Linked DNA regions of Homo sapiens: region 1 is linked to region 2. Evidence: fine-mapped expression QTL. A gene starts in region 2. The other region holds a variant in brackets. All regions are shown on one strand. Distances are from middle to middle.

Region 1 (5,370 bases), 99 kb after region 2:
AGACCAAAAGTGGATTAGTGGTTGCCAGAGGCTGGAGGGAGGAGGGAATGGGAGTGACCGCTGCAAAATACAGGGTTTCCTTTTGGGGTGATGGAACTGTCCTGGCATTAGCTAGTGGGGACGGTTGCACCACACTGTAGATGTATGAAAAGCCACTGAACGGTACACTTTAAAATAGTAACATTATGTCATGTAAATTATATCTCAATAATATTAAAACCACAGAAAAGAAATAATAAATAAATGATGGGGAATATTCCCTTCCCCGCTACAGAGTTATTCGCCCCCACCCAAGCACTGCCAGCCGCCCACTAGAGTTTTTGTGTTGTCACTTCTTGTGGACTGGTCTGTCTCCCCGGCCTTGGAACCCTTTGAGGGCAGGGCGAAGCCGGGCTACCTCTGCTCCTCTCTGCAGCCCCAGGCCCTGGCGGGCAGGCAGCATCAGGTGTCCAGCCCGTGCGCTCTTGCCGTCACTCCCAAAGCTGTGCCCGTGCCCTCCGTGTGCAGCTTGGGCTTGGAGCCTACAGGGAACTGGTCTCACATCCGTTCCATGACAGGGGTGTCCTCCCCTCTCGGGTCTCCCCAGGCCCATCTACTGCTGCCCCCAAGACCCCATGAGATGCCCGGCGGGGAAGCCCTTGGCCGCCAAGCATCCACCCCCTTCCATTCAGTGATGAGGAAAGCCAGGGCCAGAGAGAGAGATGGCCAGTGTCACACAGCAAGAGTAGACCAAGAGCCCAGCCACCCAGTGCCCTCCTTGCTGCTGGCACGCCAGAGGACAGGCCCACAGGGCTGGGCAAGCACCAGGGGACCCCTGCACCAGGCAGATGGCCCGCCTGGTGTATGAGGATGTGGAAGGACAGAGGGCTGGTTGGATCGGGAAGCTGAAATCACGAGGGGAAGGTCCCAGTGCCATCCTTATTACACGCCATGTTTTGATCATGGAGACAGCCGTTACCACAAAACCGCAGCCATGCCAAATTCATGGGCTTCCCTTTGCAAACACCCCTCCTCCCGCTCCAGGCTCACAGAACTGGGGTTCCCGTGTCAGGGATGGGGCTGGACCCTGAGATGAACCAGCCCTCTGGGAGCCATTGCGGCAGCCAGGACCGCAGCTCCCTGAGGCCCAACCTTTCCCCTCTTCCAAGGGCTCTGTGTTCGTGCATTTATTGGGCACCCATTGTGTGCCAGCTCCTATACCACAGGCTGAGGTTAAGGGGACAGCAAAACTGGCACAGGCCTTTCCTTCATGGAGCTCACAGTTGAGGGGGAGACAGGCATCCAACAATCCCACAATCAAGCTTTCCATCGCCACCGCCCAGACTGGTCATTGTGGACACACAGGGAACCATGTGTGGGAGCCCTGCCCTGGCCTGGGGGCACAGAGAAGTTTCTCTGATGAAGTGGGGCCTGAAGCGGGGGTTGGGGGGTAGCGGATGGAGGGCAGCCCCTCCCTCTGCTCTCCCAGCCTGCTGCCTCCCTCCGTGGAGTAGCTCCTGGGCATGGACCAGATGGGGAGTCTGTGGGTTTTGTCTATAGTATGTGCATGTGTGTGTTGTGTTGTGTGTTGTGTGTGGTGTATTGTATGTGTGTGTGTTGTGTTGAGAATATGCGTTTGTGTGTATGTATGTGTTGTGCCTGTATATATGTGTTGTGTGTGTTGTATGTTGTGTTTAGTGTGTGCATGTGTTGTGTGTTTGTGTGCTTTGTGTATGTTTATGTTGTGTGTATGTGTTGTGTGTGTATTGTACGTTGTGTGTATAGTGCCTGTGTGTGTGGTGTGTATGTGTCATGTGTGTGTGTTGCATGCATGTTGTGTGTATTGTGGGTCATGTGTATACTGTGTGTGCTGTGGTGCGCTGTGTGTTACGCAGTGCAAGGGGACAGCAGAGACAGCTCCCCTCCTCTCCCTTCCCAGCAGGGGAAGTGGCTTGGCGGTCAGGGAGGGGCTGTGGAGAGCCGGCCCCCCTGCTGGCACACCTCACCCACTGGAGCAGAAGAAGGAAGGGGTGCCCAGTCCTGTCTGCAGTGGGATGGGGGCGCTGCCCATGCTCCTGCCACAGGACTCCTACCCTGGCTCCACCATGGGCCTCAGCAGGGGGGTCCCTTTCTTCATTTGTAGATGGAGGCGCCTACGGCATCTGCCCCAGGGAATAACTGAGAAGAGGGGCGTGCTCACGGCACGCTGCACTGCAGGTGCGGGGCATTCTTCTGAAAACACCGCCTTGGTTAGTTTTTCCTCTTCAGAATCCCTTGGTGCCCCCTGATGGAGTCAGTCCTATTTTTTCTCACTGGTGTGGGAGACCCTGGGGGCTTGGTCCCTCTGCTCTGTCTAGGGACCCTCAACACCCCCTCTGCCCACCCCCACACACCTGGCTCATTCCACTGCCCTCCCTCCCCGCCCAGCCGCACCAAGCCCACCCTCGAGCCCCCAGCGCCCTCCCACCCGCTCAGGGTCCTCCTGTTCCTTCCCTTAGCGATGCCATCTCCAGGGGCCTGCGCCATCCTGTAGCCCCAACTAGACCCAGAGGGCAGGGCCCGGGCCTCCTCCAGCCTCCCGTTCCTGCAGTGCCTGGTGGAGGCTGCACCCGTGATCAGGTTGGATCCCGGGACTGCAGGGTTCAGACGATCTCATGTGAAGCGCCTCTGAACACCTCTGTCACGAGAGCCGCTGCTCACTTGAGACGGGGGGACAAGGCTGAGGCTGGGGGAGTGCTCAGGTCCCAGCCATTCCCAGAGCCAGCGGTCTCCCCTCCCCAGCCGCAAAAGGTAGTTCTTCCAGCCACTGTCTGCGACTCCCCTGGGAACATTTTTCACAAGGAGGAGACACATTCATGAGGCATGTGGGCACAGCCTCCACAACAAGGGACAAAGTGATTCCATCCCTGGTGAGAGGGGAGAGCCTCTGCGGGGCTGCGGGGCTGCGGGTCTTTATCTTTCTGCCTTCTTCACCTCCTCTTTGAACAGAGACTGGCTCTGGGTTCACAGTCCTGGGGGCACCAGAATCCAGCCAGAAAGAACAACACCCGC[A/G]TCTGTTTATGGCAACTGAGCTGTTTTCTATTTGCATAGTTTCCTTTGAAAATAATTATTTAAGTAAAGAGGAGTGGGTTTTCCAAAACACACTATATAGCTATCAGTGCAGGCAAAGATGAAAGTGATTTTGGATGTTAGCGGTTTGGGAAACACAGCCTAAAGGGTTTCTGGGATCTGGGAGGTGAGACAGTAGTCCTGGTATTCTCCGGGTGTTGACAATGGTAACTGACTCACAGGTGGCCTTGTATCTCAAAGCATCAGGGGGTCAGCCTCCACGTCTCCAAAGCAACTGGAGGGAAGGGTGCTGGGGGCCAAGAAGGCCACTCCTGAGTGAGGGCCGGGCCTTGCTCGGGCTGTCCCCCTGGACCCTGTGTCCTCCCCAGAGTGTGAGTACAGCCTGCAGAGCCCGGGTCTGCCGTGGCCTTCTCTGTTCCCGACCCCCTTCCCCACAACTTTTCCTATAAACCTCTCAATCACAAGCAAGGGGGCCGATTACCCAGCCCTCCCTTCACTCCTCGATCACAAGCAAGGGGGCTGATTATCCGGCCCTCCCTTCGCTCCCCTCCCAAGGGCGGCAGGTCACCCTCCTTCTAGGCGAGGCTGACTTCTTGGCACAGCGCCTCCCCTGGCACCCACTCCCTGGACTGTCTCCTGCCCTGGGTTCCTCTTGCAGAGTCAGCCTCCTCCGTGGTTCCCAGCTGCTGAAAGAAGCTGCCCTCTGTGAGTCTGAGGTGGTTTTCTGGCACTTTCCTTTAAAACACTGCCACCACCTCCTATAGCTGTTGGGAATCCATAGAACAGACCAGGGTGAAGGTGAGGCCAGCGAGGTGCCTTGTGTGCAAGGTTTACGGAGGCACTCTCATCCTCAGCGAGCCCTGAATGTGAGTCTTGACTTTCGTATCCCAGGCCTCACACTAGTCCCAGCCCTACTGCAGAACCCAAGAAAAAGAAAACCTGCTGGTTAGAAGGGTTGGCCGGGCACAGTGGCTCATGCCTGTAATCCCAGCACTTTGGGAGGCCAAGGCGGCCAGATCACTTGAGGTCAGGAGTTCAAGACAAGCCTGGCTAGCAAGGTGAAACCCTGTCCCTACTAAAAATACAAAAATTAGCCAGGCGTGGTGGCAGGCGCCTGTAATCCCAGCTACTTGGGAGGCTGAGGCAGGAGAATCACTGGGACCTGGGAGGTGGAGGTTGCAGTGAGCTGAGAGTGCACCATTGCACTCCAGCCTGGGTGACAAGAGCAAGACTCCATCTCAAAAAAAAGAAGGGTTTTCTGGGGGTCATTGATGCTTAGACCCATTCTCATAGCAGTTACGGCCTTGGGAAAATACATCTGAGGGAGGCTGATTGGCAAGACTGCTGCCTAAACACAGCTGTGTGGGTTGTGCACTGCACAAGGGCATAAAGTGAATGGGTAGGGTGGCTGAAAGACAGCCTGTCTCCATGCTGTATGTCTCAGCATAGGGGAAGGGACACCTGTTTGTGTTTTGTCCATTGGTGAGGGAACCTATCAGTAGTTCTGACATGGGTATCAAATATGCTAGTGATGACCCTGTAGACACCGTGAGGAAATTAGACAGGGGCAGGGACTTGCCCTGGATGGAATACACAGAGCAGAACCCAAGTTTCTTGATTTTTTTTTTTCAGACAGGGTCTCACTCTGTTGCCCAGGCTGGAGTGCAGTGGTGCGATCTCGGCTCACTGCAGCCTCCACCTCCTGGACTCAAGCGATCCTCCCACCTCAGCCTCCTCAGTAGCTGGAACCACAGGCATGTGGTTTTGAAGCCAAAAAGGACTTGAAGCTGGAAGCAGATGGGGAAACCAGCAAGGGAAGCTTTCCAACATGGAGAGATTAACTCAAGAAGTTGCAGCCAAAGACAATCGATGGAAGTGACCTAAGGAATCCCAGGAAGGAGGGAAGCCCGGAGGTCCAGGCTGAGCGCCTTGCAGCCTGCTGGGCAGTTGTCATTCACACCCACAGTCCTGGGGCTGGCAGGAAGCAGAAAGGCTGAATCACTCAGGTCTGGAAAAGAATGCTGGAACCACCAAGTTCTGACGTGAGATATCGGAACCAAAATGGGCGAAACGGACAAGGGAAGGGACTGAAGCCCAGACTGCTGGGGAGTGGAAAGACGAGGGACCAAAGTCAGGCTGGAGAGCATTCATCATGCCACACTCCCAGGATGTTTACTGAGCACCTACTGTGTACTGGACTCCTCCGTGCCCTGGGGCTATGCACTGAACCCAGCATTCATAACCCCATCCTCTAAGGGTCCACATTCTAGTGGCAGGAGCAGACCATAAACAACAACCTTAAAAAATAAATCAATTATATAG
Region 2 (5,369 bases):
AATATACTGAAGTAGAATTAAGGCATGAGAAACAAGTATACTGCTAACAGCAGTTACTTTCTGTTACCTACTGCTTGTCTGGCTCTGAAGGCTCATTGTCCTCCAAGCCTTAAAACAAACCTGAGTGGAAACAGACTGTGAGAGATTTAGTAACTTGTCCAAGCTAGTAAGTGGCCAAGCTAGAATTTCAGCCCTACTCTGAAAAAGCAAGTACTTTGGCCATTTTTCTTAACTGTATCTCTGCAGGGTATAGATTTGATCTCCAAGAAGCTTTTTGCCTAAGTGGATGGATAAGCCTTGCCTAAGAAACCACACACCAGAAGCGGCACTGACAGAGATACTGTGTTGGGGCAGAGGCAGGAAGGGGGAAAGATCGGTTGCAGTGGATTTAAGGATAGTGAGAAAAACGGTTTGCTTGCCTGGCGTAGCCTGGAAAAGGAGGGTGGGTCCCCACTGTGACCAGCTCTGGATGCCCTTCGAAACAGAATGGGTTTTCTCTTCCAGGCACTGGGAGATCTTTGAAGGTTTGTGAGCAGAAGAAAGTAACACAGAGTCATGATTGAGGACAACGCATTTGGTGTAAAGTTTCTCCCTGGGGTAGATGTTGATTAAGGGAGGGGTGATTACAGGCCAGAGAGAGTTCTGTGAAACCCAGGACAAAACAAAATGGCATCTACTTCCTGGGAAGTTTTTTTTTTTTTTTTTTTTTTGAGACAAAGTCTCGCTCTCCTGCCTCAGCCTCTCGAGTAGCTGGGACTACAGGTGCCCGCCACCATGCCCAGCTAATTTTTTGTATTTTTAGTAGAGATGGGGTTTCACCATGTTATCCAGGATGGTCTCCGATCTCCTGACCTCGTGATCTACCCGCCTCGGCCTCCCAAAGTGCTGGGATTACAGGCGTGAGCCACCGCGCCCAGCCCTTCCTGGGAAGTTTTAAAAATGCACTGGAAGACTAACTGCCCCATTGTCGTTGAGGGATTACACTGATAAAGCTACTGGATAGGACATTCTGCAATATTTTCAGAAATATTTATAAAAGCTGCATTAAAACATGTAAAAATGCTTATGTTAAAAACAGTATGACTACTATTCTAGTATGACTACTATTCTAGTATGACCACTATTCTATTTAATAGCAATAGTAACATTATCATCCATAGGGGAAAATTGGAAAACAAGCAAATACAATAAAATGTCAACTGTATTTGTGTTAATGTGATGAGACTCATTGGTGTTTTTTCCTTTTCGGCCACTTTCCTACATTTTCCCCAGTTTTCTCTAATGATAAACATTCTTTTTATTTCTCTTAAAAAAAAACACCATGCGGACTTTTCTAAGTGTTACTTTGCCATACGTACGTGGCAGGGGAGTTATAAGGAGTAAATGAGCAAATACACGCAAATTACCCAGCACGGTGCCTGGCATAAAATCGGCGCTCAATGAGTACGAAGCGTGAAGGGTCGCCGGCCCCGCGTCCCCGCCTTGCAGGAGCCCGGACCCGCCGAGCAGGCTCCCGGTCCGGCCCGGCCCGGCCCGGAGGCCGATGCTTCGCGGTAGTGCCCTCGCGGGTCCTGCGGACTCGGCGCCCGCGGGGCCCACAGCGCTGCCCAGCCTGTGGACGTGGAGCCCGGGCCGCACCGCCGCACACGCCCCGGGCATCTCTGCGCTACGTCGCGCGCCCCCACGGCTCCGCCCCGTGGCGTAACCCGGGGCGGGGCCGCCACCTCCGATTGGCCGGCGCGCTGTCACCACGTCGCGGGAAGCTGGCAGGGTGTGTGTCTGTGTGCGTGTGGGGTTTGCTTTGTCATTCGTACCCCCGGTGCGCGCTGACGCGGTCGGCCTGGCCGAGCTCTCCAGCATCCGCAGAAGGGTCCCCGGCGCTGTTCCTGGGATGCTCCCTTACATAATGACGCGACTGGCTGAAGCGCACGTCAGCGCAGACACCGCACATGCCGCAAACCCGGGCCTTCCGATTTCATACATTGCTAGACGAGAGCCTACAATGCCATGCCGTACGGTATGCTCTAGTAGGGATTACAATACAATGAAACGCAACCCAATAATAATAAAGCATACCTTCGCAACAAGGCGTAATATAGGATGTTATATTTATAGGGCCTATTTATAAGCCTCTATTTAAATCTTTTCTGATAGGCTCAGCCGGGGACCCAGACACTATAATGATTGGCGCATTCTTCCGTCCTTCAAAGGGGCGGGTTCTAGAGTCAGTTTTGCCTCAGCGGGCCCTGGGATTGGCCGACAGCGGTTTACCGGTGGCTTCTATTGGCCTCCCGGGCCGTCCGTCGGAGCCGAGGAGGCGGGGCAGGCGGCTGGCTGGTGCTGGGCGGGCGGGCCCCGGAATTGTCATTTCTTTGTTTCCGAAGGCGGAGGAGGCTCCGAGCCCCCCCTCCCCGTGCTACCCCCTCCCCCCGGGTGCTGGCTCCATGTCTGTGTGACCGGCCTCAGGGGTAGAGTCCAGGCCCGACGCGGGGCGGGCCAGCGGCGGCGGCAGCTGAGGTGAGAGACGGCGGCGGCGGCGCGGGCACCCGGCCCCCCAGCGGGAGGATGAAGCGGCGGAACGCCGACTGCAGTAAGCTCCGCCGCCCCCTAAAGCGGAACCGGATCACCGAGGGCATTTACGGCAGGTGAGCGGCTGCACCCCCACTCCGCGGGCGCGGGCCCTGCGGTCCCCCTCCAGCTCCGAGGGGCCTGGCCCCGTTATGTAACCCCGAGTAGGCCGCACGCCCGCGCCGGGGGCTCTCCTAAGGAGCGCTGGCCCCGGAGCCGCTGGCCCGCCCGCCGGGGTCCGCCCCGGGTGCGCGGGGCGTGGCGAGGGTCGGCCCGGCCGGGCGGGCAGGGCGCGGCGGGCGCTGGCTGAGGGAGCCGCCGCGCCGCCGTTGGAAGCGCCGGGCCCGCCGGGGGGAGGGGCGGAGAGCCCCCAACCAGCCCGGCGTTCCTCAGCATCCCGGCCATGCCGCTGGGCCGGGAGGGCCGCTTCCGGGACCTCTGACTGGCCGCCGCTGGCCCCCGAGCCCCCCGGTGGCCTGGGGGCTTGCCGGCCGGAGCCAGGAGGCGCGTGGACCACAGCGCGGGGGGGTGGGGGAGGCTGACAAAGTTGAGAGCCCACTGTGGCCCCTCGTTCCCCCAAGCTGCCAGCATACTGGCCTGGGGCCATGCTGTCACTTCTTTCACCTTCTGCTTCCCATATGGGATCTCAAACTTGGCACCCAGGGCTGAAGCTGATACCCCCAAATCATGCCCTGTGGCCCTGCTCCAGATTCGGAAGGGTCTGATGACCAGTTTTTCAGCAAATATTGTTTTGACAATTCCAAGCAGATAGCTTGCTTTGAACGTTTTTAAAAAGGGATTTTCTCCAAACTCTTTTTTTTTTTTTTCATCCGCAAGAAAAGCAGTGTCCCTTTAAATAGAAATTGAATTCAGTCCACCGGTAGAGAAAGACAACAGGTTCATGGGGCAACTTACTATCATAGCTTCCCCAAGTCGATTTGTGTACGACTGTTATTTTCTGGTTCTTCTCAGAATGTTACTTGTAAATGGTATTTGCCTTGATACAGATTTCGGTGGAGAAGTAATTAGTTTACAAAGAAGAATTCTCAGCATGTGGATGTAGGCTTAATTGAGTCCTCATGGTGTTTTACAATTAGCTTCTCTAGCTGTGGGATTTCAAGAAATATGTGAGGTAGCTGATGACACCCAAGTTGTCTTAACATAACTGTACACCTTGCACATGCTCTTGTTTACAGATGTGGAATGATTGCTTTCCACAAGCAGCTGACTGATGTAAACACTGGGGATTTTCTTCAAGTTTAAAAGCATTAAGGAATCAAAGTAAAAATTTCTTGGGTATATTCTTATAAAATGAGCCATAGAGCATAGGAGTAATTCATTCATTCATCAGTTATATATACTATGTGCCAGGAACATTTCTAATCAGTGAAGATAGAGCAGTGAGTAAAACAGACTCTAATCTATGCTGGATGAATCGAACTTGACCATTTTAACTTGAACTGTGAAAGCAAACAATTTTTTCTACACATAGATGGAGGAAAGGTCTCTTCAATTCACGTTACATACACTATACATTCTTGAATTAAAGAAAGTTTTTCCCCTTTGGCTATTGAAAAATATTTGACCAACTTAACATTAATGGTAACATAAAAATAGGAAAGGGATATTAAACCGAGTTGGTAGACTTAGCACAACTGTGGCATTTGAATAGCTGCTATTTACAGTAACATAAGATGATGTACCTCCATTTATAGCAAGAAGATTGAGAGTCCCATATTGTTTACGTGTTTTCTGCTGTATTTCCATTTCTCTGTACTTGAACAAATAGACCCAGTTTACAACCTGCGCCATAATAGCTACTCAGTGTGAATCGATGTGAAGAAGTGAATTCATCGTTTAATGAAGATTTATCATCTTACTGATGGCTTTTGAAATTTGAATTTTCTTACCCTAAAGGTTAATTGTAAATACTCTTTGCAAGTTATTCAGAGGTTCATCTGCAAAATTTTAAAAACCGACAGTGCATTAGCCTTAAATCTTCTTATGCTTCTCTGTTTTGCATTCTTTAAGTTAAATGTTAATAAAAGACCTAAATGTATTTCTAACTGTCTTTCCTGGTTGGAGTATCATATATCAAATGAGCGTTTCAACTCACTTATCTGTTTCTTGGTTTATATTATGGAGTATTGGACTGAAGAACAAGATTTTTTTTTTTTTGCCCAATTCTGTTTTTAAAGAGATTTAGAAAAATTTCCTGTTATTTCTAAAGCAAACAGGATGAGTGGACTGGTTATAAACTAGAATGCTTGAGGATTCATGAATATCAAATTTCTGGTGATCATCAAATTTAAGTCTATGCTAAGTTGTTTTTCACACCATCTATTGCCCATTTTGTTTCTCAACAACATGTGGCCAATTTTGGATTCATTAAACAGAGAGCCTTGTTTTTTTTCTGGGGCCGTGTTGACAGTTTTGATAACCACTGTCTACTGTTTCATAGCCAAACCTTTCATGGACTTACTATTTTCATGTTCTCAGTCTGTACAACTTTCTGAGCCTTGGCATAGGAAGGAGGCAGCTGTGGTGAAAAGCGCACTGGACTGCAGGAATCAGGAGACCCAGGATCAGACTCAAAATCCCAGCTCTGCTGCTTTAGGCAGACAGGGCATCCACAGCTTTGAGCCCCAGTTCTCCCACCTTCAAATGAGTTTTGAGGACTAAAGGAGATATGTACAGTTTGTGAAATGCTTTATAAATCCTAGTGTAGTTTACAGATACTATTTACCATGTTGTTGCTATCACAGTTTAACGTGTGGTTAATTTTTTAAGGAGGCAGGAAA

Evidence for each region.
Region 1: its variant is fine-mapped to the expression of MACO1 in whole blood (INTERVAL, PIP 0.97).

What each region holds. Positions count from the first base shown.
Region 1 is chr1:25,527,689-25,533,058 of GRCh38, forward strand. No RefSeq gene overlaps it. Among named protein-coding and RNA genes, the nearest start is that of LDLRAP1, 13 kb to the right of the region's middle. The variant A/G (reference allele first, on the strand shown) is at 3,031.
Region 2 is chr1:25,428,534-25,433,902 of GRCh38, forward strand. It overlaps MACO1 (macoilin 1), which reads left to right and starts at 2,364. Exons shown (of 11, transcript NM_018202.6): 1 at 2,364-2,645. The coding sequence starts at 2,566. It also overlaps a transcript of RHCE not described here. RefSeq lists silencers at 1,390-1,829, 2,220-2,879.